Regions from separate parts of the Homo sapiens genome. Here all the other regions are linked to region 4. The links come from fine-mapping of genetic effects on gene expression. A gene starts in region 4. Each other region holds a variant in brackets. All regions are shown on one strand. Distances are between the middles of the regions.

The links. PIP is the estimated chance that this variant, and not a neighbour inherited with it, causes the effect.
Region 1: its variant is fine-mapped to the expression of MAP1B in whole blood (INTERVAL, PIP 0.98).
Region 2: its variant is fine-mapped to the expression of MAP1B in transverse colon (GTEx, PIP 0.98). The same link has a PIP of 0.9 or more in coronary artery, nasal epithelium and prefrontal cortex.
Region 3: its variant is fine-mapped to the expression of MAP1B in tibial artery (GTEx, PIP 0.93).
Region 5: its variant is fine-mapped to the expression of MAP1B in breast (GTEx, PIP 0.97).
Region 6: its variant is fine-mapped to the expression of MAP1B in tibial artery (GTEx, PIP above 0.99). The same link has a PIP of 0.9 or more in anterior cingulate cortex, aorta, atrial appendage, cerebellar hemisphere, cerebellum and cerebral cortex.
Region 7: its variant is fine-mapped to the expression of MAP1B in prostate (GTEx, PIP 0.98).

The regions. Positions count from the first base shown.
Region 1 is chr5:72,133,398-72,137,464 of GRCh38, reverse strand. All of the region lies in intron 2 of MAP1B (microtubule associated protein 1B), which reads right to left. Among named protein-coding and RNA genes, the nearest start is that of MAP1B, 28 kb to the right of the region's middle. The variant T/C (reference allele first, on the strand shown) is at 2,359.
Region 2 is chr5:72,198,208-72,202,274 of GRCh38, reverse strand. It overlaps MAP1B (microtubule associated protein 1B), which reads right to left. Exons shown (of 7, transcript NM_005909.5): 5 at 1,908-4,067. Among named protein-coding and RNA genes, the nearest start is that of MIR4803, 31 kb to the right of the region's middle. The variant T/C (reference allele first, on the strand shown) is at 1,683.
Region 3 is chr5:72,321,447-72,325,513 of GRCh38, reverse strand. PTCD2 (pentatricopeptide repeat domain 2) reads right to left here. Exons shown (of 10, transcript NM_024754.5): 2 at 3,250-3,342. Among named protein-coding and RNA genes, the nearest start is that of PTCD2, 3.1 kb to the right of the region's middle. The variant GC/C (reference allele first, on the strand shown) is at 1,832.
Region 4 is chr5:72,105,539-72,109,605 of GRCh38, reverse strand. MAP1B (microtubule associated protein 1B) reads right to left here and starts at 2,131. Exons shown (of 7, transcript NM_005909.5): 1 at 1,891-2,131. The coding sequence starts at 2,074. LOC105379028 (a long non-coding RNA gene) reads left to right here. Exons shown (of 3, transcript XR_007058813.1): 1 at 1-831; 2 at 1,619-1,681. RefSeq lists enhancers at 530-824, 1,230-2,212.
Region 5 is chr5:72,188,818-72,192,884 of GRCh38, reverse strand. The region is part of intron 4 of MAP1B (microtubule associated protein 1B); the gene reads right to left. Among named protein-coding and RNA genes, the nearest start is that of MIR4803, 21 kb to the right of the region's middle. The variant G/A (reference allele first, on the strand shown) is at 2,484.
Region 6 is chr5:72,208,667-72,212,732 of GRCh38, reverse strand. MAP1B (microtubule associated protein 1B) reads right to left here. Exons shown (of 7, transcript NM_005909.5): 7 at 3,168-4,066. Among named protein-coding and RNA genes, the nearest start is that of MIR4803, 41 kb to the right of the region's middle. The variant G/A (reference allele first, on the strand shown) is at 2,031.
Region 7 is chr5:72,246,696-72,250,762 of GRCh38, reverse strand. The region is part of intron 4 of MRPS27 (mitochondrial ribosomal protein S27); the gene reads left to right. Among named protein-coding and RNA genes, the nearest start is that of MRPS27, 72 kb to the left of the region's middle. The variant TTTAA/A (reference allele first, on the strand shown) is at 2,047.

The sequences.
Region 1 (4,067 bases), 28 kb before region 4:
AGATGGATCTCAGCAGTTAAAGATCATAAGCTTTTTATGTAATTCAACTAGAAAATATGATTTAATTTGTGGCTTACATAAAACAATAGTCATGGAACATATTTATTGCCTATCATCCCTTGTAGACTAGTCTAAGAAAATAATACACTCAAGGTTCTACAGAAATTTAGGCTGTCAAGATGATTGACTATAGCAATAGGGCCAATAGGTCATTGAATTCACTCATATATGTGGAGGTCAACACCAGTCTACAGGATCTATCAGCAAATGGTCTGACATGCCTAGGAAGATAAAAATGGAATTGCTGCTTTGTCATAAGCCATCCTTATGAATAAACTGAACTGACTTTTTTGTACTGTGAATTATTACTCAGCCTACAGTTCTGACATAAACAAAAATGCAAATCATGCTAATAACCTAGCCAATTTCATGTGCCATAAACAAGCCTTCAGTAGCAGTGAAGGGCACTTGGCCCATAGGGTGGAAGAAGATGCAGAAATCAGAATCTCCCTGCAACTCAAAATGACCAAATGTAAAATACTCAAAACCAAGTTCACACATTTTTAATAACAAAATAAATCTTGGTATGGGCTTGGCAAAAAATAATAATAATTCACATATTATTTAAGCACCCATATTAGCACCCTCTGGACAATATTTTCCTTGTAGTTTGGCTTGGGGTCAGTAGTCAAAATGTATATGTTTATAGTTTATAATCAGAAGAGGATACAAAACAACTCAAGGACACACCCTAATTGGAGGGAAAGGGAGTGGCTGGCCAACAATTGAGTCAAGGTACAAAACATTAGGCTAGGTGTGACTTGGGGCAGGATCTGACAGAGGGTAGTAGTAAAATGATTATGAAAAACAACTGAGAATGTCCCCCTTTTCCTTCCATCTAGATTATGAGGTCTTGGGGAGAAGGAGGTAGGTTTTAAATTATCCCAGAGAACTGAACCCAGAGATGAGGACAAGTCTTGGATGACAGGGCCATACTGACAGCTTGGAGAGGACACAATTGAGGCCCTGGGAAGATGACCCGACTACTCCTTGAGCCACCCAGGAAAAGAGTATCTGGCCATCTCCAGACAGCAATTTCAGCTTCCATAGTCAATTGCTGATTTCCTGTTTGTAATGTCCTTCCTTTGAATTATATTTACATTCAGGTAGCTTGTGGTAAGAGAGCTGTCCTGTATGTCAGATAGTTCAAGGAGTGCTGGGGGTGGGAATAGAGGAAATGAGGGCAATATTCCATAGGTTCAGGAGAAACTCAGGGGATAGCACATGCCCATGGGTATGTTTAGTACAGTAACTAGCACTTTACTTAGTACCTAGGTGCTCAGCACACTTAAGTACTCAGCACAAGGCAGTGCCTTCTCCTTTATTCCACACAAGGGCATCAGGACAGGTGATTCAGATGGTCTAGTTCTTTCTAGAACACTCCAAAGTTTCCTTCCAACCAGCTCACCAAATGCACTGGCCTTGAAGAACTGTAAATGGAGACTCCTGGTCAAATCCTGTTGGGCTACACCTCAAAACCCAGTGTTATTCCAAATTCTTTCTAAAATATCAGTCCTACAGGAGCAATAATCATCTAGGTAATTGGACATGAAAAGTCCAATGAGGAAAAAGAAATAGCTCACCAGCTGCCTTTCAAGGCAAAACAAGAATGCAAATGGAAAGGTCCCAGGGAAATCTGGATGGAAAATTATCACCTCACAAGAGGGTCTGATCTGGATTGGATTCATCCTTTTTCACAGGATGACTCTGTTCCAGGGAAACTAGATGCTAGGAACATTCTGGGATCCAAATATGGAGAACTGAGAACTATTGTAAGGGTTTCTAAAAACTCCCAAGAAAAATTCACAAGGACTCTTTTTCTTCCAGTGCTTTGGGAAAATTCAAAAAACCTGAAATTCCAAAGCCAGTCTAATCCAGGTGACCCTCAATCTCATAGCTACTGGGTCTACTCCACAAGGAGGAAATCAAGACTGGTAAGAGTTGGCTACCTGACCTGTACTTGCAAAACACTGACACAAATGAGAGAGAGAGAGAAAAAAAGAAAACCACCACCTTTACTCACTCAAGTAATAAGGTCACCTCAGAACACTGGCCCATGTTTTGAAAGGAAATAATTTTTAGAGGTGAAAAACAATGGTTGATAGGTACCAGGCATAACCCTTTGAGATGCAAGTACTATTGCCAATTAATGCCATTGGACAGATGAGAAAGTTAAGGCTCGGAGCAATCCCATAAGCTGCCTACAGTTACATAGCCCAGTAAAAGCCAGAGCTGGTATTTGAACCTAGATTTTCTGACTCAGGGTTATTGTTAGATTGCTTGAAAGGAGGCCACAAC[T/C]CCCTACCCCAAGTCTGACAATGATTTTCTTCCTATTGCGGGAGGGGCTGGAAATGACTGATAAAAATTATACTCTTCCACCAACTCAGCTCTGGGCTCAAAGCATCTGAAACATCAGGATTCCACCTCGCTCCTGATTAATTTTTTCATATGGGAAGGGAACTAAGAGCCTTACCCTGAGACATAAGGAATGAGACTTTAAGACATACTAGATCAATGCCATCACGAAAAAGCAAAATATTTCAGAGGTCTGATGGGACCAGCCGCCTGCCTTCCTTTTCTACTCAGCAGTGGCCAAGTCTCTGCCTTCCTTTTTCAGGAACATTTTCTGCAGCAGGGCCCAGGCCATTGTGAGCTTTGAGAAGAATGATATTCTGCTTTTGTAAGAAAAGGAGGAGATTTCCCAGGCATGCTTTGTGTCCCAGACGCTTTCACTAATTGATAGAGTGCCACTACAGAGTATATTTTTATTCATGCAGTCAGCACATGCCTGCTTCTACGTTTTCAAGTTTTCTTTAAAAAAAAAAAATTCTCCTATGTGGTAAGACAACAGCTTCCGTTAACAAAATGAAGCAAAACCAAATTCTTCTTAATGAAAATGAAAATGTCAATAGGACTTCTCTCCTCATGCTAATCCCCTGTTTGACATGCAATGACATCATCCCCTAGAAGCTGGAGACAAATGTAATGTCTGCTATAATTACAAGGCTTACCCTGCAGAAGAAGGGAGGTGGCCGTGAGGTGCAGGCAAGCCCTTCTCACTGGGCCCTCCTTGGAAATACAATGGAACCCACTAATGCAGTGAGGGAGTCTTGCTGCGACAATACTAAAAGGAGCAGAAATCAAAGGACTTCACTGACCATGGATTCAGGCTTGATGTTCTGATACAAAGTTTATATCCCCAAGTAGCAATTTAAATAAAATTGCATTTTTCTTTTTCAATCAAATCAAACTGTGGTGTCACAAAAGACAACATGTACACACACAAAACTCTCACTCACAAACATGTGAAAACTAAAGTTAAAAAAGAAAGCCCTCATTCATAAGGTGTTCACATAGTGACAATAAGAATGCATGTGACACTTTTGGCGGAAGCTGGAGGTTGCAGGAAGGGATTTTCCACAATATCCATAAAGAAGAAAGGGAGTTTTGAAATGTGACAGATTCTGATTAAAGAAAAATGGAAATGTTTGGCTCTTGGGAACTTCAAGTATAGAGAACTGATAATGCTACAAAGAAACCATAATCCTGAACCAATTATGGCTGAATAATACTGTAGACTTTATAATGGTACAGTTGGTTTGAACACTGAGTCAAGATGAATCAGCTTTTCCTGCTTTACCAACATTTCTTATTCATTTCCTTGAATGGCAAGTTAAAAGCATTAATCATTATTAAGACTGTCTTTGTATTTTGTAAAAGCATTGTTATTTAAACATCTCTTAAAAATGTATTTCTACACTTTACATGCCTTATAGCTACTGAATTTTCATAAATCCTCTGTAAAGTAGGTTCATAGATAAGGAAACTGAGGCACAGAGACCTTGTGCATGAGGTGAAGCCCATATTTGAACTTGGCCACTGTAGCTCCTGGGCCCCCACGCTTTACCATTCTGCTGGACTCAAAGAAGGTTGGAAAGTTTTTGACACACTCTTCAAATACCTGCCCCTAATCCTAGGATGCAAGACAGGAAAAAGAAGCTTACTGC
Region 2 (4,067 bases), 93 kb before region 4:
TTCCAGTAATTAAACATGTCTGCCAATTTCGCCCTCTACTCTAAATCACTACCATCAACATCAAATGAATATTGCTCACAGAAGCACAAACTGACAGAACTGCCCAGGTTTGCTTTAAAAGTCAATTAGTACTGCAACTTTGCCTTTTTAGACATCTAAAAGCATCTCCAAAATAAATGAAAATTAACTCATTTTCACTTATTACTTTGCCTTTAAATTACCTCTTTAAATGTCCAAAAAAAGTTTTTTTAAAAATTGTGTGGGCTAGGATGTATATGTTCTGGCAAATTTGCAGTTGGTTTTATCTGTTTAAATGGATTTCATGTTTTCTCCTAAGTGCAGGTCAGTTGTCAACTCTTTCAGATGAAAGGGTTAATTATCTGGTGGTTTTTCATTCATTTTAAACATGAAAAAATTCCGATTATTTTCTATGTGCATGTAGAAAGGCCAAATGTGCTGAGAACTGAGCCTTAAAATTGATACTCCATATTGTTTAAAGTAAAAATTTGCAGTTTTAACAAATGTATCCTAAAGTGTACTTAATTGGAGAGCTCCAAAGATTACTCTATCAGATTTTCCCTAATAAATCAGGGCAATGTTATTTAAATTATGTTGTGCCTTACATGTTTGGGTCCATTTACATTACTTTGTGAATTGTGATCTAAAAATCTCTGAATAATTACCTAAAGCAAATAAAATGTATGAATGCCAATCCTTGTGATTGATGTGAAGCAACAAAATGAAGCAGTACTGCCATAGACCAGTTCCATCAAAAGCCCAGGTCATTGCTGAGAACCTGATAAATCTGAGAATCATGACCAAAAACATGAATGATCAAAAATCAGGGATACCTGCTCTTGCCAAGTGGCATTTCATTTGCTTATTTATTTATTTTTGAGAGACAGGGTCTTGCTCTGTCACCCAGGCTTGGCATGCAGTGATACATACAATTCTGGCTCACTGCAGCCTTGATCTCTTGGGCTGAAGTGATCCTCCTGCCTCAGCCTCCCAAGTAGCTAAGACTATAAGCACGTGCCACCACACCCAGCTAATTAAAAAACATTTTTTTTTTTTTGTGGAGACAGGGTCTTGCTATGTTGCACAGGCTGGTCTCAACTTCCTGGGCTGAAGCTAACCTTCCATCTCAGCCTCCCAAAGTGCTGAAATTACAGGCATGAGGCCATGCATCTAGCTTCCCAGTGGAATTTTAATCTGAAATAGCATTGAGTCTCTACTAATGAGGCCATGGGGTAAGAGAAGGGTAAGAGCAGAGCCATCAATGTTTTTCTCTCAATTTTCACCGGACACTCACTGGTCAACTGAAATTATAGTATTTTTTGGCTGATAAGAAAATGGAACACTGCCTTTAATGAGGATTTATCTCCAACCTGGTGATGTTTTAAATAAAAATGTAAACATTTTTAATTTAAAAAAAATTTTTTTTAAAAAAGGACTCTAAATCTTGGGTCTAGACTGGTTGATCCAGTCTTGATGTGAAACCTCTGGTTCTCCTTAGGCCTTTGGGAGCTCCTGGCCTGTGTTACCCTGCTGGATTCTGAGGCCAGTATGGCTGAAACCAGTCTTCCAGAAGCACCTGAAAGACACATCCTTGGTTCTGAAGATTTAGAACAGGGCTGTAGTTGCTGTGTTCGAAAACGGCACAAAATCAGGAATCCCAGTGA[T/C]GAATCACAGCTGCTTTGAACCATACACTGAGCTATTTCCAAGCCTTAAGGCCACACTGGACTGAGATATATACCTTTGGGCAGAGGAGAAGAGTACAGGGAAGGTAAAGCATCAATTGTGCTCCCTCATCTTCCCAGTACAAAGCCAAACAGGGAAATATAAAGGCTGTAAACGCAAGTAGAATGGTTGTGACATATATCCAATGCCCAGCCTTCTCAACCTACCTGCAGTGGCGGTCTTGGCCGACTTGGATGCAGAGGCATTGGCAGCATTCTTGGTCTCCTTGTCTTTCTCTTCCCCACGTGCAGCTTTGACCTCAGGAGTGGTGGTGGGTTTTGCTGCCTTTTCCACAGATTCTTTCTTCTTAGGAGAAGCCACCCTGGACACTTTATCCGAGGATTCTTTCAAGCCCGCTGGTTTTGGTGAAGCTGCCAAGGGCTTAGACTTCCCATCACTCTTTTTGACAGGTGAAGATGACTTGGTCTTTGTACCTGGCTTTTTGGTTTTGGTCTTCTCTTTCAGATCTTTCTTTAGAGCTTTGCCCAGGTTCTGCTCAATGGCCAAGGCCTCTGGGTCCACCATGGACACATCAGGGTGGCGTGGCGAAGGGCTGCGGTCTTGCACGGGAGCTGGAGGTGGGTCCATGTGTTTGTACGTGACAGTTTTGTCTGTGGGGATGGTTTCCGACTCGTCTTCAGAGTCGATATTGGCATCGGCCGTGATGGAGGGGCACTCTTCAGTCTCCGGGGGAACATCAGAGTCGGTCTGGGATGGGGCTGACTCGCTGACTGAGGTGGGAGGGGTTTCATCACACTGTCGGCCCTGTTGCTTTCCTCCTGGAGGCGGTGGGGCTCCCCCTGATTGAGTGAGGGGCTTTTCAGATTCTTCAGTGGGTTCTTCACTGGCAAACCACTCAAGAGGATTGGGATTAATGAAAGAGGGTGAAAGCTCTGTCTTGGGGTGCTTGTATTCACAAGAGGACACGAGGCATAAATCGACATCCTGACGGGCTTCTGAGGGGGACTTCTTTTCTGCAGTGTAGCATAGGTCTGAAGTCTCGTAGGAATATGTGGATGCCTGAGGGGTTCTAGTGATTTTCTCTGCAGTCTCGTAACAGTATGTGGAAGTATCAGGGGTTCGTGTTGTCTTTGTAGATGTCTCATAGGAATAACCTTCAGACTCAGGGAAACTGGTAATTTTCTCAGTGGTTTCATAAGAGTAGCTGGGGTCCCCAAGTGTGTGGCCACCATCCTCAGAGTCATCATAGCCATTGCTGATGTCATCCAGAAGCCTTCTAGACCTCTCAGTCTTTTCATAGCTGTAACCACTCACTTCGGGGGGGCTGGTGGTCTTTTCACTTATGTCATATGAGTACCCACCCTCTTCAGGGGTCCGTGTGGTCTTCTCAATAATTTCATAGGAATAGTCACCATCTTCAGGGGTCTTGGTAGTTTTCCCAATGGTCTCATAGGAGTAGCCACTGTCACTTGGAGATTTTGTGGTTCTCTCTATCTTCTCATAGTAATAGCCACCCACATCTGAGGTCCGGGTGGTCTTCTCATAAGACTCATAGTCATAATCTTCTTCATCTGGGGACCTGGTTGTTTCCTCAGGCTTTTGATAGGCATAGCTAAAGTCACCAGGTGTCTTCCCTCCACTGTCCTTCTCCAGGCCAGGTGTGGACAAATCTCTATTCAAGGCTAGATGGTGTTGCATTGTATCGAATAACACTGAGGCACGGAAGCCATAGGGCTCTGCGGATGCTGCATCTATTGGTGGAGAAGAGGAACTGTGGCAAGTTGCTGTTTTCTCTTTGACTGCAGAGGTAGAATCTGAAAAAGTAGGTGAATATAAAGGAGAGGACTCTCGTGGGGTGAGTGGAGAGATATCAGATTTTGGAGAGAGCTTCTCTCCTTCCAGACTTTGCACTTTTTCAGAGGTGAGTGAGGCATATAAGGACATATCTCTGGGAGGAGCAACATCGGATAGAGTATCTTCTTGGAGAGGAGAAGCGATCTGAGAAGGGGTATGAGCAGAAGAGGTGGACGGGGAGGCCTCTACCTGAGATACTGAGATGAGCTCAGAAAGATCATTATCTTGGGTGTAGGACGGCTCCTCCATAGGTGGTATCTTATGTGATAAACTGGAGTCCTGCATGTCAGAAGGACTGTAGTCCACTTCAGTTGGCCCATTTTCAGTGATGTGAAGCACGCCTGCACCCACTGTAGGGTGATCTGGAGACTGTCGACTGAAGTCCATAGCAAGGGATTGCTCAGGAGATTCTTGGCCAAATTCAATAGACATTGAGGACTGTTCAGATCTGTGATCTTGAACGGGTGTCCTGGACTTTGCAGTTTTAGGGGAGAAATCTGGTGGAGAAATTG
Region 3 (4,067 bases), 220 kb before region 4:
CTGATGGAGACCCTTGCTCTGAGACTTGATTCCTCATGTGTAAATTAAGGATCGTGGTACCTTCCTCACAGGGTTACCTGAGATGATATATGTAAAGCATTTGTCATTCGGTAACTGCCAGTAAATAGAAACATTATTGTTCTCATTTTCATTCCTTGTGTCACCTGTTAGATCTAAGAGGATTTAGTCTATTAAATATTTCTAAGCAACTTCCAGTCTAAAAAGTCTCAAGTCATCAAAGAGATGACGTTACATCTTGTACTCCTTAATCCTCCTTAATAAACCTTAAGAGGCCGGGTGCAGTGGCTCAGGCCTGTAATCCCAGCACTTTGGGAGGCCAAGGTGGGTGGATCACTTGAGGTCAGTAGTTTGAAACCAGCCTCGCCACCATGGTGAAACCCCGTCTCTACCAAAAATACAAAAAGTAGCCAGGTGTGGTGGTGCACGCCTGTAATCCCAGCTACTAGGGAGGCTGAGGCACAAGAATTGCTTGAACCTGGGAGGCAGAGGTTGCAATGAGCCGAGATCATGCCACTGTACTCCAGCCTAGGTGACAGAGCAAGACTCTGTCTCAGAAAAAAAAAAAACAACACCTTAAGAATCCAGTATTTCAACAGATATAACTTGTGTTTTAAAACAAATCAATCAACATTTGTTTATCATATAATCATACTCGGAAGTATCCTTCTTTGTGTGTGAGACACCAAGAAGCGTAAGGAATAGTTCCTGCCCTCAAAGAACTTAAAAGCATTTTGGGGAGGGCAAGCTAAATTTATACAAAGCTACCTGAAAACAATGATGGAGGAGGTGACACATGAATACTATAAACATAATAAGACTCTTCTGTCCTGTTACGACACCTATTACAACTCAGAGTGGACAGAAGAGTCCTGTTACAACCTTTACTATTATGACTCAGAACAGACCAGGTTGGTGAAAGTGGAGGGGTACCAGTGAGAAAGGAAAGGGCTGAAATCAGGTTGGAGAAATGGAGGAGGGGGATATTCTAGGTAAGGAAATCAGCATGAGCAACAGAACAGAACTGGGAATGACAGGTGTGGAGGGAAAAGCTGTGACTAGATCAACCAGAAACCGTCCTAGAAAGGGCGGAGTCCATCACGGGAGAGCCAGGATGCCAGAGAGATGAGTATGTTAATAGTGTGGTATACAACAGAGTACCACTGTGGGCTCTCAAAATGATGAAAGGTTGACAGGACTTTAAACATATCAGTCTGACAATAGAGCAGATTGGCACTGATTATATTAATTGCCTTTCAGAACATGTACACAACTGCCACAGACTTATGAAGACTATGACAACTGGAAATCACAACTGGATGACATGAAGCCCTAACTGCAAACCTCACATAGATCTAAAATACCTGGGTAGAAAGAAAAGACTGAAGTGAAATCTAGATTGAGCCTACTCAACTGGGGATAAATATATTCCCCCCATTCCAAAGGTTTATTTTTTTGCCCCCTATATGGTATTATATAACAGTATGATTAGCGGAGCAGCGAGAGAACATTGATTTCTGGAGGACTGAATTGTGAGGGAATGGAGGCAGAAAGTATCAGGATGGGTGCAGTGGCTCACGCTTGTACTTTAGGAGACTGAGGCGGGATACTAGCTTGAGCCTGGGAGTTCGAGACCAGCCTCAACACAGTGAGACCATCTCTACAAAAAAAAATTAAAAATTAAAAATTAGGCGGTATGGTGGCACTGTAGTCCTAGTTACTCAGGAGGCTAAAGCAGGATTGCTTGAATCCAAGAGTTTGAGGCTGCAGCGAGCTATGATGGTGCCAACTGCACTCCAGCCTAGGTGACAGA[GC/C]GAGACTGTCTCTTAAAAAACAAACCAAAACAAAGAGAATGTTAATGTGTTAATCAGGAGCTCACAAACATCTGGCAGTGAGAGGAAGGAGAGCTGGGTCTATGGTTGAAAAAGTCAGTAGGGACACCAAGAGTTATTAAAAAAAAAAGGAAAGTCTTAGATGTGTTCATAAAGGAGGATCAAGGAGGTATATCCACAACCCCCAGGGACCACTGCTGCATCCACACACAATAAAAGGTATGAAATGCTGGGAAGAACTCTATGTGCAGGAGGGAGAGAATGAATGCACAAGATTTTTCAGGTGCTGAAAGGGAAAAAGACCTAGGGTGGTGTTCTTGTTTGTAGCTTTTTATAACAAAAATTTTCAAACATACCCAAGAAATGAAAGAACAGGATAATAATCCCCCTCACTAAGTGCCATTACCCAGCCTCAATCATTATCAATATTTTGCTAATTATGTTTCCTCTACACTACAATCCTCAAACACACTGGATTTTTTTTCAAAGCAAATCCCAGATTTATCTTTTTTTTGAGACAGGGTCTCACTCTGTTACACAGGTTGGAGTGCAGTGGTGTGATCATGGCTTACTGCACCTTAGACCTCCCAGGCTCAAGCAATCCTCCCACCTCAGTCCCTGGAGTAGCTGTGACTACAGGCATGCACCACCACGCCCAACTAACTTTAAAAAAATTTGTAGAGATGAGGTCTACGCTGCTCAGGCTGATCTCAAACTCCCTGGCTCAAGCAATCCTCCTGCCTTGGCCTCCCAAAGTGCTGGAGTTACAGGCATGAGCCATCATGCCCAGCCAAATCCTAGGTTTGGTAGTCAGGTTTCTCTTGTTTTTTAAGAAATTTTTGATCCTACTGACTTTTCTAGCACAGAGTGAAAAATACCAAATGTATCATCACACATAGTACTGTTTTGTTTCATTTGATTTCATTTATATATAGATATGTTTGTGTGTACTGAGATGCAACATAAAATGCATTTTTCACTGAAGGTTACATCAAAAAGTTTGAAAGCCAATCATCTGAAGTTTTTAAACTTTATTGTGCATATGAATGATCTGGGGCCTTTCTCTCTGCACTTCTATCAACCACCCAATAGATGCTGATGCCGCTGGTCCTCAAACCTCACTTTTAATGGCACAGATTTAGACAAGACCAATCGCAGCACTAGCTTTAATACTTCTCTGGGATCGTAAGAGAAGGAATAAGAGGAGAGCTGTAGACGTTGTAGCAGCAAAGTATGAAATGCAAGATAAATATAAGAGTTCACTATGAAACTAACAATAAATGGTCTCAACTTTTTCTAAGGCATAATAAAGTCACTGAAGGAGACACTGAATAGGGATAAAGACAGAGAAACTTAAATGACAGATAAATGACAGAATTAACAAAATAGATTCTATTACCTTTAGTGCCAGAAAGATTACATGCAACAGCCACTTTCTTTTGTTGAAATTCTTTTAATTTCACCACATTATCTGTAAGTAGGTATCTTTTAGCTAAAAATCAGAGAAAGAAAAAAGTAAAGTCATTTTGACTGTTTTAGAAGTTAGCAAATAACATGAATAGAGCTGGATTACCTCTAACATCTATTATAGATAATCCATTAGACAGGTACAAATATAACTGTACAAACTGTACAAATATAAATCCTGGGAAAAACAATTTCTGAACTACCAGAGAATGCAAATCCTCAGCAAAACAGGTTTTATTTGTGTGTGTGAAAGAAGCTAGTGATTAACCGTAGCTAGTGATAAACCTGTGTGGGGACTGGTTGACAGGAAGTTGGGATTTGAAGTACAAATGGGCATTTGCCATCGGTTAAGGGTATCAAGGGCATTTAAAAAAAAAACTAATAACATTTAAATGCAAAACAGGCATATTTAGTTTTGGTTTATCCAGGGAGAAGCACAGTGTAGTGGAAAAAGCTGCAGCATGACCACTGGAACTCCCAGTTTTGTCCTCTGTGAAATGAGGGGGTTAAGGCCTCTCAGATGTGGACTCAAAATACATTTGAGATACATGGAAATCATTGATCACAGCTTAGTAGATTTGGGAAACATCATCCTTTCTTTAGGATCCTTGGCTGTGCATGAGATAAAACGGACCAAGCGTGGCCGAAGAATCACGCACTAACAGAGTTCTGTGAGCTGCAGTAACAAGGTAACAATAAAAGTTGCTATTTATTTACAGAAAGGCAGTCCAGTGAAGTGGTTAGGAGCAG
Region 4 (4,067 bases):
GATGATCCCTCTCCTAGCACCACCACATCGAATGGTTATGAAGATTTTGTAGATAGAAAAGCACCTCCTAATATATTCCTATTTCCCAGAAATGCTACTTACAAATAATTTTTTAAAGAAAAAAATCCAAAGTCATTGATTCCCACAATAGCCACACCCAAAGTCAGTATGTGTAAAATTTTTCCAGGAGAAAATTGTGCAAATAAACTAAATTAGAACAGATTAGACCAAAGGCCTATATAGTCTGAAAATGAAGGGTTATTGAGATGCTCAAATAAGACATTTCACTACTGAAATATCTCTTGTTCTTGAATTTTTTGGAATAAAATACTATGACTTTCTGCTCACATTTTTTTTCTTTTTTTTTTTTAAGCTAAAAGGGAAAATCAAGTGCTTTAAAGTTAAACAAAAGAACCAGGTCTGCAACTCCAGTCCCCACCCTGCAGCCTTTTGTTCTGGGGACAAGTGGCCGTTTCCAACTGCAGAGGCAGATGACAAGCATTTATTTTTTCATCTAAAACAAGGTTTTTCTTTCGTCTTTTATTGGGGAGGGGGAGTGGGGAACGAGGGCTGCGTGAACGCCCTTTGTCCGCCTCGGGCTGCCGTAGAGACCGCAGTGCGGACTGCACCACGCCCACCAACCGGTGTCTCCCGGAGAAACGCTTCAGCACCACCCCAGGAGAATAGAGCGCGGGCTGGGGCTGCGGAGGGACCCGGCGACCTCTGTCAGGAGCGAGGGGAGGGCCGGGACGCCAGGGATAAAGGGAAAGGCAGAGACCAGAGCTGCCCACCCAGGGACTCCCAGGGCAACAAAGCCAGGCAAACTGAGAGGTGGGGGCGCGCGGCCCCCGCCAGCCCGAGGCCCGGGCGGAGCGCAAGCCCAGCCAGCCGTGCCCGACGGGGGCGCCGCAGTGTGGGGGGGCAGGTGTGGCGGGCGGTCCGGAGGCACTGCGGCAGCTCGGGTGGGGCTGGGGGCGGTCTCTCTGTGCGCCCGAGGCTGTGCCCGCCGGACCCTCACGGCCCCGCCCAGGGTCCCCGGCGTACCGCTATTCGGCCTCCGCAGAGCGCGCCACTGGTGCGAGCACCGGGCGAGGAGCTGACCCTACCCGCTGACGTCTCCCTCACCGACCCCCTTCAAGCTACCACTCCCGAGGCTGGGACTTCTAAAAGCAGCAGCCCCACCCCGCAACTTGGGGTCCCATTGTCCTTTCTGAGAGCTGCAGCCAAGGCCCCAAGGGCGGTAGCGAGGCGGGCTCTGTCTGGTGGCGAAGCGCAGGCGGTTCTGCATCCCAGCATCTCCCCGGGGAGGGGGGGGCGGGGGGAGCGGGCGTGGCCCTAGGACTAGCCTAGTCATTCTGAGGAAAGAAAGGATCGGGAGGTTTGAAATCAGAAAAGGCGTTTCTCAGGGGCTGAGGTAGCCGTGGTGAGGATGAATCCCACGCGGGCCCTGGCACATGGGCTTCGGCCCCAGGTCTGCGGTGGTGGGGGTCCCAGCCTTTTCCTGAGGCCAGAAGAGGACTGAAAGGAGTGGTTGCATCAGGTCTCCCCCACCCTTCTGCCTCCTGCGGTTGCGGCTTTATTGTGGCCTCTGCTCCCCTGACACCTGCATTTCACTTAGCGGGAGAGGCGGTGGCCAACTCAGCACAGGCTGCGGACTCAGCGTGGTGACAGATCCCTCAAGGTTATTGGAGACTCTCCCTCTGGGTCTCATATCTAATAATTCGGATTATTCTTAATTAGCCCAGAAAGGGTCTGGACCAAGTATGAGAGGTGACGAGGAGAGGCATGGGTGCGGGGCGCGCGGGAGGAGCGCAGTGACCGTCGCGCCCTGGGTGGGGTCGTGTTTGCGCGTCTCCCAGCGCGCGTCTCTGGGGGCGCGGGGCCACTTACCGAGCTCGATGTTGCCGATGGCACGCCGCAGGTGCTCCTCGGTCACGATCTCGCCGACGACCACCAGCAAGTAGAACTTGCTGTCAAGGAAGCGGTGCGACAGGCTAGGCGAGGTGGACGCCGCCGGGTTGGCGATGCTGCCGGACGGCTCCGGCTCGGTGGCTTCCACCACCACGGTCGCCATCCTGCCGGCTGCTGTGCCTCGGCGAAGTGTCTCGCTCCGGCCGCTCCTCTCCACTGCGGCAGGAGAAAGGATTATCTCCGAAGGTACTGTCTCCGCTCCGCCCCCTGCGTCCCCCCTCCTCTGGCGCCGCGCGCCGCCTCCCCCTCCGCCCTCTCCCAGCGCCGCGGAGAGTGCGCGGCGGAGAGGAGCGGGGAGTGAGAGAGGGCGGGGAGGCGGCGCCGCTTTTATATGGAGACTAGGCAGGGAGCCGGGAGGAGGAGGAAGAGGAGGAGGAAAGGACCACCCGGCACATCCTCACGCGGTGGCTGCCTCCGCTCTTCCAGCCGTTGGCCCGGGGCTGATGTCATCTGCAGCAAATCATCTCGCCCGCGGCCCGGAAGCTGGAGGGACGAGGTGTGCGGACAATGGTCGGGGCAGGGCCGCGAGCCAAGGGGCTGGGGCGCCCGCTGAGCTCCTGCTGCAGCCGTGAAGGGGGAAGACGCTCTCAACCTACACCACCCACCACGTACACACCCACTGCCCACTCCTCACCCTCACCCTGTCTGTGCATGGGAATGGGATGAGTTTCCATTTTCGGAGTGGGGGTCTTTTCTCTTGTTGGAGTTGCACTAGTCAGGCCTCTGCCTTGTGTGCTGTGTATGATGTAGCCAGGTTCTCAGGAACTGGGATAGCCACAGTGGGCAGATGCGGGGCTGTGGGTACCCCGCCTAGGAAGACGGAACCTGTCTTTTCTTTGACCTTGTGGCTTTAAGAAGACGAATTTACTGATATTTACCAATATCAATATTTACCACCTTCACTTAAAGAATACATCAAAAATGCAAAACTTAAGCCTACTATTGTTCAGGCCTTGGATTCTACTCTGGCAGGGCCAAGGATGAAAAAGTACTGGCTTTGTGGTGCTCATGGGAAATGAGAGAAATGCAGATGTATTATATTAGATACCAATTTCTTTCCTTAATGTGCTGAACAGATAGTATCAGTAATAACAAAGAATAAAGAGAAGATACTGTCTCTACTCAGCAGGGTTACAGTGACTATAATGTACTTTTCAGTTCCTTGGGGAACACACAAGCAAAATTACCTCGTGACAATGATGTCTTTTAAAATACCTGTAGCATTGGGAATTTTTATTGCCTTTGTTTGTGTTTAGAAGAACTAAAAAATGTGTTTTTTGTTTTTGTTTTTTTGTTTTTTTTTTTAAGGCAGCCTATTTACAACCGTTTCTCACAAACATACTGAATATAGCTTCTGTCCCAGAAAAGGGGAGGAGGGTGAGGAAAGAGCAAAATGTGCAAACATGGTATCATAGAAGACTGGGGAATTCGAGCTTTAAGGAAGAGGAATAGATGGAAATTAGTCAACATAGCTTTAATACTAGAATGCCTGTTAGTAAAATATAGATGATAGATAGATAGATAGATAGATAGATAGATAGATAGATAGATAATCACCTAGATATTCTTAAGATTTCCAAAATAACCCAGTGTCTTAGGTGTTAGCTGCCATGACTTATTGGTCATGTACTCTTTGCTCTTATATCTTTCCTGACACCCTGGCATGGGAGACATGCTGGGCAGCCAAGGGCTGGGGGGTTCCATCCAACATGTCAATCTGATCAATGCAGAATGAAAATACCGTCTGGCCCGCAGTATTTGGGATCTGTGACAGGATCACTAGAGAGTTGCATTCACCAGTAATTAGATGAAGTGTTTCCAACTAGCTGCATTCACCAGTAACTAGATGAAGTGTTTCCAGATAATATTTTGGTTAAGATATTCAATTGCTGTTCAAGAAGTAAGGCCAGCACCAAAGCCCATAACTGGGGTGAGGGGCAGGAAATATGGTGAAGAGCACTGTTTTCTAAAGGTCATCCGTTGGATTCCAGCCTCATCTAGTTTGTGTTTGGTTTTCCTTTCTTTGAACCATTGTTACTTTTATGTATGTAATAGTTTTCTTTTATGCAGTTTATTTCTTTTACTTAAATTTATTT
Region 5 (4,067 bases), 83 kb before region 4:
GGTTTAATAAAAACACTACTTGTCTCTCTCACTCCATATTATGGCCATATATTTCATGGTCTTAGCCTAGCAAATTAGTGATGGAGAATCATGCCATCAACTCCAATATTCTTTCCGTCTCAGTAAAGCTCACAAATCAGCTCAGAGTTTCGACTGAAAAGGGCTCTGTATTCTGGATGACAAATGATCAAGGGGTAAAGCCAAGGTTTCATTTGGTCCAGGCATCCCTGAGCCAGCAGGTCTGAACTCTTACCTTCTAGTATTAGATTAGTTTCCTCTATCTCCTGACTATCAGCATTCTGAGGCTACTATTATGAATGTGTGTAAGAATAATTTATAGAATCTGAGTTTTCCTATATTCGACTGCAATATTGCAGTAAAATAGTCATTTTTGTTTTGTTAGCATATTAGTCCTAAGCATAACATTTTATGTAAAGGGCCGCAAAATAACAAAATAATAAAACTTTGCTGTTTTTCTGTGACTTCACAATTTTCTGTAAAAAGGATAAGAATCAACTCCTGTTTTTGGGAGCTAAGAAAAGTGAAAAAGCAAATGGTAATACCATCTTTGGGTAGAGGGGACAGGCATCTTTGCTCAAATGATTTGCTGGCCAAAGCAAACATAGGGCATCAAATATGGTTTTTTGTACAATAGTTAGCAGAGACTCTCATCACAATCACTATAGCACAATTAAAAGTCTCTAGATCCCAATTTTCACACAAAGCACATGCAAACTATTCATGTTTTATAATATGTTTTAGGGGGCAAATCTAGAATAACTGCTGTATCTTTAATAGTGAAACTTAAAAATTAAGTTTAGTTCATTTTAATTTTTGAAATTCCACCCTAGCTGAGAGGTGTGGCAGCCAAGGGTATAATCCAGCTGTGAGTAGGGGGCATTCAATCACTGGCTCTTTTTATGTAAAGTATGTAATTACCAGGTTGAAGCAGAAGGTAGAAAGACTTAAGGAATATCTTCCTACTTTCCGTCTTTTCACCTCTATCCAGAGAATTTCTATGAAATGCAGGAAATGACCCCAAAACAAAACAAGATTGCACAGAATTCTGAGAAGTCAGAGGTCATGAAAGATAGCCAAGAGACACTGGTGAATGAACAACCGTGATGTACAAGGCAAAGCAGAAAAGAAAGCCAGCATTGCTTTGACAGGTTTCTTTCCAGAGAAGGAAAATCTGGTCCCTCTGAAGAAACAGCAGCACATTCTGAATGATGAGACAAGAATGCAGAGACAGGGCTGGACAGAGCCCTCAGTCATAAAACAGACAGATGGAATTGGGCAGAGGGAGGAGGAGGAAGAACAACTCCTACATCCTTGGAACTACACAACAGAATGAAGCCCGTGTTTTCCCCCACAGCCTCTTTCCAGACCTGTGGGCCAACAAGCACAGTAGAGAGTGCCTCAAGGGCAAAGACAGGGTCTTAAGAGTGGCCAGCCCACGGCAGCACCTGACCAAGCTTATTCAATGAATAGATGAGAACCATAAGGAGGATCCAACAATGTTAGCAGTGGCAAGGAAGCTTGTGACTAGTTCTTAGACTTGGAAACTGAGGCTTCTTCTGAACAAATTGGGAAATCATCACCATGATAAATGGTAACTATTATAACCCACTACTCTAAACATTTCTGATAGCAGGAAATATATCTTCTGTATCTTTGTATCTTAGTTATCTTTGTTTCCTCAATACATAATCAGGCTCAGTAGATGTTTGTTGATCTGTGTGCCAAACTTGGCCAGTTCAACACATGTTATCTTCCTGGAGTGGGTACTTCAGATGTAACCACACTGAGTGCTACCCTGGTTCTTACAAAGTTGGATGACAGATGCAACAAGGAGGAATATGCTTTGGGACAAAGATAATCTTTTTTGTTAATTACTTTTTCTGATTAAATGCAGGCATACTGGAAGAGGAAGGAAGATGTAAGAAATAAATGGTTTTACTGCAGATGAGATTAATGAAACAAGATTTGAATTTCTAAACCATGGCCTACGAACTACATTTCCTTTTTGATTAGGTTACTTGCTTGGCTGATGAGGAAATACAGTAGACAGTGTATCTCTGGGTTTTAGCCAGACATTTAATAGGACCCCTGAACAGTGTGATAGTAGAATTAGGTGGATTTCCAGCCAGCCATATAAATAGTGCTGCTTAATGTCAACCTGGAGGGAGGTCTATGATGGGCTGCCTCAAGTCTCATTTTCTGGCCTGTATTCACTTGGATAAAAATGGCGAAGGCATGCATATCATATTTGTGCATGGTATGAAAATGGGAGACACAGCAAAATGTGGAATGGCAGAATTAAGGTATTTATAAAAGCTCTTGACATTGGGATGATGGTGGCTAAGTCAATTCTAACAGGATGGCATTCTAAAGGGATAAATGTAAGGTTCAATAAACCAGCAGGGTAAACTACAGGATTGGGAGATGTGGCTTAACAATAATATCCATGGAAAAGACTCAGG[G/A]ATTTTAGTTGACAGTCAAATGGATTTATCATGAAGCCAAAGAAGCTTAAACTTCAAGGTACCTCATTGGCATGGCCCTGTACTTAACTGTATATTAATAATTGTTTCATTTTTCTTAAAAAAGAGCCCTTAAATTATATAAATTGTCGAGCCCCTCAAAGCCTGCATCTCTTCCCCATTGACTTCCCCATTGACCATTAATGGTGTATGGTGATGGTCAAAAGTCACTTTTAGACTTCTTTAATAGAAGATGGTATTGAAAACTATAGACATTATCAACTCTCACAATCCTAACCTGGTCAAATGACTCCTGAATAGGGTGTCCAGTTTGAGTCATGACATTTTAGAGAAATTAGACCAACAAGCAAAAACCTGAAACAAGTCTCCCTTACTGGCTCCTTCCTCTTGGCCTTATGACCTGTCAACACTGGACCTGGGCCCTTTCTCTTCTTAAAATGTTTCTCACTCTAGGTCACATCATGTGTCTTCTGGGCTTCAAATACCTCTAATATGCTAATGGATTTCAAATTAGTATCTCCAGCCCGACTCTGAGTTCCCTGAGCTCTGTTCTCATAAATCCAACTGTCTGATTTCAAGGCACTAAAACATGACCAGGACTAAACTCCTGAATTCCCCCCATACCCATCCCATCTCCTCTTCTTTTTATTTTATTTTTTTAATGTTTTAAGTATAGTTTTTTTTTTTTTAAGAGACAGAATCTTGCTCTGTTGCCCAGGTTGGAGTGCAGTGCAGATTATAACTGAGTGCAACCTAGAACTCCTAGCCGCACGTGATCCTCCCACTCTGGCCTCCCAAAGTACTGGGATTACAGGCATGGGCCATAGCACCTGGCCTTCACCTCCCTTTCTTGACAGAGGAACAAGTTTGAAGGACAGTGAGCAGGGTTATGAAGAACTGTGGGTAAAACTGAAGATGATTAATCTGAAAGGGAAAAAATCGGCAGTGTTGGTGAAGGGTAACTAAGACACTGTAGGTGGGAAAGGGATCACATCACTTCCTTGAAGATACAATGAGACAAATAAGGAAAAACTTTCCAACACAGAGACTGAAAAATGTCCCCAGGAGATGATGATTTCACCATCCCTGGATTTCAGGGAGGAGTGGGGTTAGCCAGACAATTGTACCGTCTGTTAGTTCTGGTTTTGTTAATTGATCTCCAGTGATTAAGACTCCAAAACCTGAAGCTCAAAGTGTACTGATAGTTCTATTTTTTCAGTCCATTTATTTTTAGCTGTTCTTATATTTTTTAAAAAGTATCATTTTTGTTTGTCCCAAATTGTGGTTTTGGTTTCCCTGGAGTTAACTAGTATGTTTCAAGGACTGGATAAAAGGAAAAGAGCTGGACAACAAGTGGTCTTCAAGGTCCGTTTGTTATTCAGTTACTCAACCATTTTTCCAAGGCAACAATGGGCAATCCTAGCTCCAAAAGGCTGATAACCACTGGTCCAGTCCAGTGGTTTTCAATTCACTTTAGCTGTGGCATCCTTTCTTTGTGGGTGGCAGAAGAGAATATGACATGGTCTCTGACCATAATGATACCTGCCTGAGTATAATCAAAATATG
Region 6 (4,066 bases), 100 kb before region 4:
GGTGAGGCTGGTCTCAAACTCCTGACCTCAAGTGATCCACCCGCCTTGGCCTCCCAAAGTGCTGGGATTACAGGTGTGAGCCACCACACTGGGCTTTGCCCCAACCTTGATCACAAAAATAATAGTCATATGGAGACCAGGAAGGTAGAGAAAAAGAGAGTGCTAGGTAAATGGTGGAGATTGCAACTTAAGATAAGGTGGTTAGGGAAGGCCTTCCTGAGAAAATGACATTTGAACAAAAACCCACATGGGTGAGATTGAAAACCGTGGAATCACCTGGAGAAAATGCATGTTGAGCAAAGGAAATAGCATAAAGGCCTTGAGATGAAAGGCTGAATGCCTGAGGAATAGCAAGGAGGCCAGTATGGCTGGAGCAGAATGTGTAAGGTGGAAAGAAGTGGGAAATGAAGTCGGAGAGAAGGGGTAGAGGAGGAATGAATTGTGTAAGCCTTCTTAGCCCATCAGTAAAGACATTGGCTTTTACTCTAAGATGAGAACTTACTCAAGAGCTTTGAGCATGGGTGGCATGATCTGACTTAACATTTTTAGAGGATTACTCTACTGTAGCTGCAACATGGAGAATAAGCTAGGAGGGCAAAGATAGGAAACCGGAAGGTCAATTAGGATGCTCCTGCAATAAACCAGGAGAGAAATGATTGACTTGGACAAGGGTAGTAACCGTGAATGTGAGGAGAAGGTATCAGACTGATATATTTTGAAGGTCAAGCCAGCAGTACTTGCCGGCCAGTTGATTTGCTGATGGGCCAAAATTTTTGGCCTGAACAACAAGAATATGTATTTGCCATTTACTGAGGTAGAAAAGCCTAGGAGAGAAGCAGTTTGCAAATGGAGATCAGGGGTTTGTTTGGGGACATGTTACATTTGGTTTAGGGTATTTTAAAGACTCCTATTGGATATCCACATGGAGATTTTAATGGGCACTGGATATATGAATTTGGAGGTAAGGGATGATGTACAGGCTGCAGATATAACTATAAAAATCATCAGTTTACACATGGCATTTAAATTCCTGAGACTGCATTAAAGCAGCATGCATTTCTGGTTTTAGTGGGGACAATCTGAGCCATGAAATAGAGCTGTGTCTGTTGGTGTACGGCGAGATCTCCCTGTGAATCAAGCAGACCTCAGAAGCCCTGCTCCACCATCTGTGAAAACATTGCCAGTAACCCCTGGAGAAGTATCCAGAAGAACTGCTCATATTAAACGAACTAGGTGTGACCAAAACTGCATATATGGCTCCGGTGAATTTCCAAGGCATACAATACAAGATCAAAGAGGAAATAGTTCTGGAATTATGCAAGGGACCAAGAATTCATGAGTCAGGAGTGTGTTAAAAAAAGCATTGTAGGGATATAGAAAATCATCCAGAATGAGCGGTACAATTAAGAAGAGAGAGAAAATATGATCACAGGACCTCAACAGACCTTTGTTGATTTTCTCAGAAGATAGGAAAAAAGAAACTGAAGGAAAGCTGCCGCCAACTTTTCCCCCTCCATTGTGCCTAGATGGGGGGAGAAGGGGATGTAAACAGCAGGGCAGGGTTCAGGTAGGGTGACTAGCCCTCACTGGTTCCCAGGGACTGAGGGGTTTTCTGGGACACAGGACTTTCAGTGCTGAAATCAGGGCAGTCCTGAGCAAACCAAGATAGTTGGCCACCCTGGCTTCAGGCCAGAAGGAAGGCTTCCTGGAACTGAACAATTTGGCAGTGGAATAGAAAACAACTTATTTACTATTTAATTTGAGTCTGATAGATGAAATTAAAATCTGTAAGTGATGATTTCCCACCCTGAGTGCTCACATGCTTAACCCTTTAATTTCTGGAGGGATTTCAGAATCCCTCTTAGCAAGCAGTGATTTCTGATAGGACCATTCAATGTAGCCCCATGGTTTGGAGGGGAAATGTTAAGATCAAAAGGAGTGGATATGACACACAGAGGGATATCATAATAACTCAGGACAGGCTGCTGGGGTCTTTTGAGGCTAAAGGACCATCTCTGCAGACAGGCAGG[G/A]CCCAGTCTTGGAGGTCTCTATTAAGAACCTTATGGGCATGTTTTTTGTGGCCACATGGTGGGAAACTGAAGTGCCAGGGCCTCCCCCATTTACATGCTGCCATTGTGAGCAGTCTGTGCTCCTTAACATATGCTGATCCTGCTCTCTGCTGAGACCCTGTGTGAGCTCTTGTCTCTGCCTGGAATTTACTTTTGGTCCAACCAATGCACACACACACACACACACACACACACACACACACACACACACACTCCAGAGCTCAGCCGAGACATCATTTGCGGTGCTTTTCCTATGGTCACCTAAGCTCGCTCTTGAATTTTAGGAGCCCCCATCACGATGTGGTATCATTGCCTCTGCTGGTCTGTCTTCCCCCAATCAGTTAGGGCAGCAGTTAGGTTATATCTTGTAATATAACCTACTGCCAGGTACAGGGTAAATGTGTAATAATCATTTGAATGACAGGGAGGAAATCCTCCTCTTGTTAGGTATTCTTTGCTACATATATAATCACTTTTTCCCAACAACTGCTAGTTCCTGGGTGTGAGTCAAATCCACAACATATTATGTTAGATAGAGGATATTCTGTAACAGTGAGCAAGGAACTAAGAAAAAGATAGGTACTGAGCACAATTGCTGAATATGACAGGTTCTGGTCTGGTCTATCTTTTCTTTCTTTTTTTTTTTTTTTTTTTTTAGAGACAGAGTCTCTCTCTGTTGCCCAGGTTGGAGTGCAGTGGCACAATCATGGTTCACTACAGCCTTGAACTTCCGGGCTCAAATGATTCTCCCACCTTGGCCTCCCAAAGTACTGGGATCACAGGCATGTAGCACTGCACCCAGCTATCCTTTTTTTTTTCTTTTTTTTAAGCAATAATTTTAATTGTTCCTTCCCTTCACCTCCCAGTTTCTGTCCTTACACGCTCACATCCTCTAGAGCTTGGCTATAAAAGTTAACGAGGTAGCAGTTGCAAGCATTAGCAAGATGCTTTCGGCAGTTTGCCAAAAGCCAGGGAGCCCATCTTGAAAAGAACGTAGTCACCCCCTGCCGTCATGCCCTGACTGCCCAGCATTCTGCGTGAGTGGCAAAGCCCAACTCAGGAACACAAAGCAAAAGACAGCACAGCACACACATGAACTTTTGCCACTTTTGTATTTTATTGTGGAACTGAGTTTTTTTTTTTCCTTTACATCAAATATCCTCAATGGAAGAGGGGATATTGCACACAAATATCATAAAAGCACTACATATTACTTTCACTGGAAACTAATTTTCTACATTAGATATGACTGGATAGGATAGAAGTGATGCAGGATTATAAGACATAATACCATACACAGCTGCAGACTGACACAAACACCATTCAGAACAAGAGAGAGGAGTGTGAAGTGCTTCTCAGCTGGGCTCAAGACCACTTCTTTCCAGTGCTGGAAAGAGGGGCTGCATGCAGTGTAGGAAAAGCGTGTCTCTGAACTGCCACAGGGTGTTCTCGAAAGGGCAGCCCGGTCTTGATGCCACTTCTCCATGGCTCCTGTTTTGGGGAGCTCCAAACAAGTGCAGAGAAGCTGCCTATTTTTTCCCTTCCTTTTCAGTTTTTGATGCTGCCTTTAAAAATCAACTTCATGAAGTCACAGATTTTTTAACAGTAAATAGTTTTAATACCAGGTGAATAACCTAATTGCTTTCAAAGAAATGCTCATCCCTAGGCTGCTTTTGGTGTATTGTTCAGTTGGTTAAAAGATAAAAGCTTACAGTTCCTTTCAAATGGAAACAGGATCTTTTCTTCTAAATCTGAAGCACAAAAAAAAAAAGTTATTATCCTAACTCACAATATCATTACTGAGCAGGAACCTCCTGTGACAGGTGACTAAAGAGAGGCAAGAAAAGCAAATTCAGAATTGTAGAGCAGCTCCTAAGAGCTGAAATTTGGTAACAGAGGGAAAATGAAAGGTGGTAAGATTTCCATTAGCAAATGATTAAATCTTAATTAAATGAGTATTGGAAAGCTCCTAGACTGCATAAGCTATTGGAGACACT
Region 7 (4,067 bases), 140 kb before region 4:
TGCTTGTATATGTGCATATTTTTACTGTGTTTGGTTCCAAAAAGAATTATAAGCCGGCAAAATGCCTAAATAGCTCCTATGTGATTTTCATAATAACCCAGTGATTAAGGTATTATCATCTCTATTTTAAAAATGATAAAACTGATTCTTAGGTTAAATGACTCAGTTAGTGAGTCGGGGCTGGGTTCTAATCAAACACAGAGCAGCACTTTGTCAGAGATTTACCTGGTGGCAGTGCAATTAGTTTTCACAGTGAAAGTGGCATCGAGTCCTCTCTCATGTCTGTGATAACAGTAATTTTGTCACTTCTTTCCCTACTCTTCTGCCCCTGGAGAAGCAGCATTACTGTGGTTTGGTTCAGTTCTCTATCAGACAGGCCCTTGAATGCAGAGTCAAAAAGTCATGCACCTTGAAAAACTCAACACAGAACATATCCCTAAGTAGTAAAAGTATAACATGAGAATGATGGACACCAACTTTCTTGTTCTAGAAAGTGAGAGAAGCAGGGTACAACATTATCTCTAACATTTTTATTTCTTAAATATACCCAAGGAAACAAAAAAGACAGACTATTGGGAAGAAGAGAGAAAAGTTGGATTTATTTTCCTATTGAGAGCCAGTTTTTCAAAATTTATTATCAGGGTGTTATGAAATAATCAGTGTTATATACATGGGAAATTACCTATGATGCTTATAAATTAACCTTCTAAACTTGTTATCAATGCTCAAAAAATACTTGGAGTTTTTTTGTTATTTTTGTTTTTTTGTTTTTTGTTTTTGAGATGGAGTCTCGTTCTGTCGCCCAGGCTGGAGTGCAGTGGCGTGATCTCAGCTTACTGCAAGCTCCGCCTCCCAGGTTCACTCCATTCTCCTGCCTCAGCCTCCCAAGTAGCTGGGACTACAGGCAGCTGCCACCACACTCGGCTAATTTCTTTGTATTGTTTTAGTAGAGACGGGGTTTCACCGTGTTAGCCAGGATGGTCTCTGTCTCCTGACCTCGTGATCCACCCGCCTCGGCCTCCCAAAGTGCTGGGATTACAGGCGTGAACCACTGCGCCCAGCCTGTTTTTGTTTTTTTGAGATGGAGTCTTGCTCTGTCGCCCAGGCTGGAGTGCAGTGGCGCCATCTTGGCTCACTGCAACCTCTGCCTCCCGGGTTCAAGTGATTCTCCTGCCTCAGCCTCCCAAGTAGCTGGGATTACAGGCACGTGCTGCTGCGCCAGGCTAATTTTTGTATTTTTTAGTAGAGACGGGGTTTCACCATTTTGGCCAGGCTGGTCTTGAACTCCTGACCTCAAGTGACCTGCCCGCCTCGGCCTCCCACAGTGCCAGGATTACAGGCGTGAGCCACCACGCGGGGCTGAAAATACTTGTTTTTGATCATCCCAATCTAACCTTATTGAAGGCAAGGAGATGTTTATTCTTCTTTGTCTCTTAGTGCCCAGCATAATATCCTGATTCATAGTAGGTTGATAAATGATCAAATGCAGAAGAGAGGAGCTTTGACCTCATCAAATGCTCCATTCTGTTGTAATAAGTAATTTCATATAGGTATAGAAGTAGAACTATTCTCTCTGCAGTTTAACATTCAGTTTTGCCTTATTCATGCTTAAAAAATCCCAGCTTTCTTACTTTTTTGCCTAAGATTATTGAAGGAAAAAGTGTATCTGTTCACTAAAGGCTGCATTCATTGTAGCAGCCATGTATATGTGGACAGTCTACTTGCTACCACACTTGAAATTCTGCTTAATGTGCACTCATAAAGGACAAGCTCCCACCCCTTCGAACTCAGTGTAATTGTTCAGTATATGAGCTTGTGGTGTTTAAGAAACTAGGGAGGCAGAGGTATTTTCATAGCTTGTTATCCTCTTCTCTCCCACAAAGTGCAGCCATGATCTGACACATGATCAATGGGCCGAGCCCTTTTTAGGATGCAGAAGATGCTCCCTGTGTCTGTGGATCACAATAGCAAACAATAGCAACTTCTGCAATGATATTTTGCCTCCCTGGTGTTCAAACTTCTTCAGTTAAGCCTGTCTGGAATCTA[TTTAA/A]CTATTATACATCAAAGCTTTTTTTTTTTTTTTTTTTTTTTTTAAATGAAAATGGTGGGGGTGGAACCAGAGAGGAAAACCTGTATCTTTGCCAAGGAGCCCTCTCTCCTTCCCCTATGACTCATACTTAGGAAAGCTGAGGGACTTTGGAAAGCTGCCTGAGTCACATTGAGGCAGGTCTCCTGGCACTTTCAGACACTTTTTAAATTTTCTCAGGCAGTAAAAGATGTTTTTCAAATTGTTCATTCCCTCTTTCTGGGCCAGCCTAAAAGCTTTTGTTTAGCTAAAGTATGGCTTTTTTATGCAAGATTTGCCAGCCAGAACAGATGAACCCGGAACTTTGTATTTGGTTTATTACTAAAGAAACAGCTCTTTCATATTCAGAATTGTAACTGTTCCTTCTTATGATTGTCATCCTATTAAAAGGAATTGCCTCTGGTACTTAACCTTCCTATGACATGAAGTTTGCATTTGGTCATTGTTAAGAATTTTCTTAGCATATTTTGTTTGTATAATTTCAAATATTCAGTTTTTAAAAATTTGGTTTTTGGTATGAGAGACTAGCTTGAGCTAAATAGAGGAGCTGCCTATTAAATGTATTATAGTCATACTGAGTTTTACTATTTGGCAGCAGAAGAAAGAAAGGTCACCTTAATTTTTCTGTCTTTACATGTAAACAACTAAGGGTTTTTGTTTGTTTGGTGAGTGGTAAAGTAAACCTTTCTAAAAACCAATTGGACTCACAAATAATAAGTCTCAATTTTTAAATATCTTTCCTTTTTAAACTACAAATAGTCATTATGTTCCAAAAACTGTCAAGTAATTTCTTAATATCTCTATGCCCACCCTATCCTACTCCCCTTTTTTTAGAGTTCAACCATTTCTGCTATAGGAATTGCCAGATAACAGAGGTTTGATAAAGTAACAGTATATAAAACAATAATTTATATTATGTAGGAAAATTACTTTGGATGACTTTCTTAGATATAAGATGAATTGCACTGAAATATTTGAGTAGAAAATAAAATGCTTTACTAATGGAGTGATCAATTGCTGAAAATTTTATTTTCTATAAAACTTGATCTTCAGTTATAATGTACTTTAGGGACCTTAAATTTAACTTTAGCTGATTTTATCATTTCACCTTGAAATTTTAGATGCCAATTTGCAGGGCCCACCATTCCCATAATAATAATCTCTGTTGCCTGCCCAAAGTGGGTACCATATGGTGGGGGAATGGAGGCTAGTGGAATAAAGTAAAATCAGCTGTGGACTGAATGGTTGCTCGTTTATCTTTGAGTCTTTATTCACTTGTTTGTATCACTGCCATTTTTCTGGTTTAATAGAAACTTGTATATGACTGATGTTTTAATGAGTAGATATAGGCTTATTGTCTTTTACAGTCATTAAACTTAAGTGCTGGAAGGAGTTCCGGGGGTCTGGTCTAGTCCAGAGTTCAAGTGTATTTTGTTTGGCCCGTAAGCTGTGTTTTTATAAACAGTATAATGAAATCACTTTGCTTGATTGTAATACAAGCAGCTTTGTACCTATTGTCTTACATGATTCATGCATTTATATTAACTGACTGGCCCCTGTAGACAGTTGAGTTTGTGATCCAGATAACCGTACCTCTTCATTTTACAGTTGCAGGAACTGAAACCCTGAAGGATCAAGTGACTTTCCAAAGTTAAACAGCTAGTTCAGGGCAATTCCAGAACTGTTTTACACTGAGTTTATTTTTCTGTTGATTCTGCTCCTAAATTTAGAAGAGATGTTTATTTTTCGCTGTTAGAGACCTTTGTGAAACCACAAAAATGTTTTTTAAAGATGTCCTACAAATAAGTTGAGAGGCAATGGTGGAATAATGAAAGTGAGGGGTCTAATTTAGGTCCTATTGCTAACTATCTTGGGGAAATCATTTTATCTCACTATATACATCAAGATTCCTCCTCTATAAAGTAAAGGAATTAGATTACATAATTTTACGTCACCTAGAACAGGGCTAGTAAATTCTCAA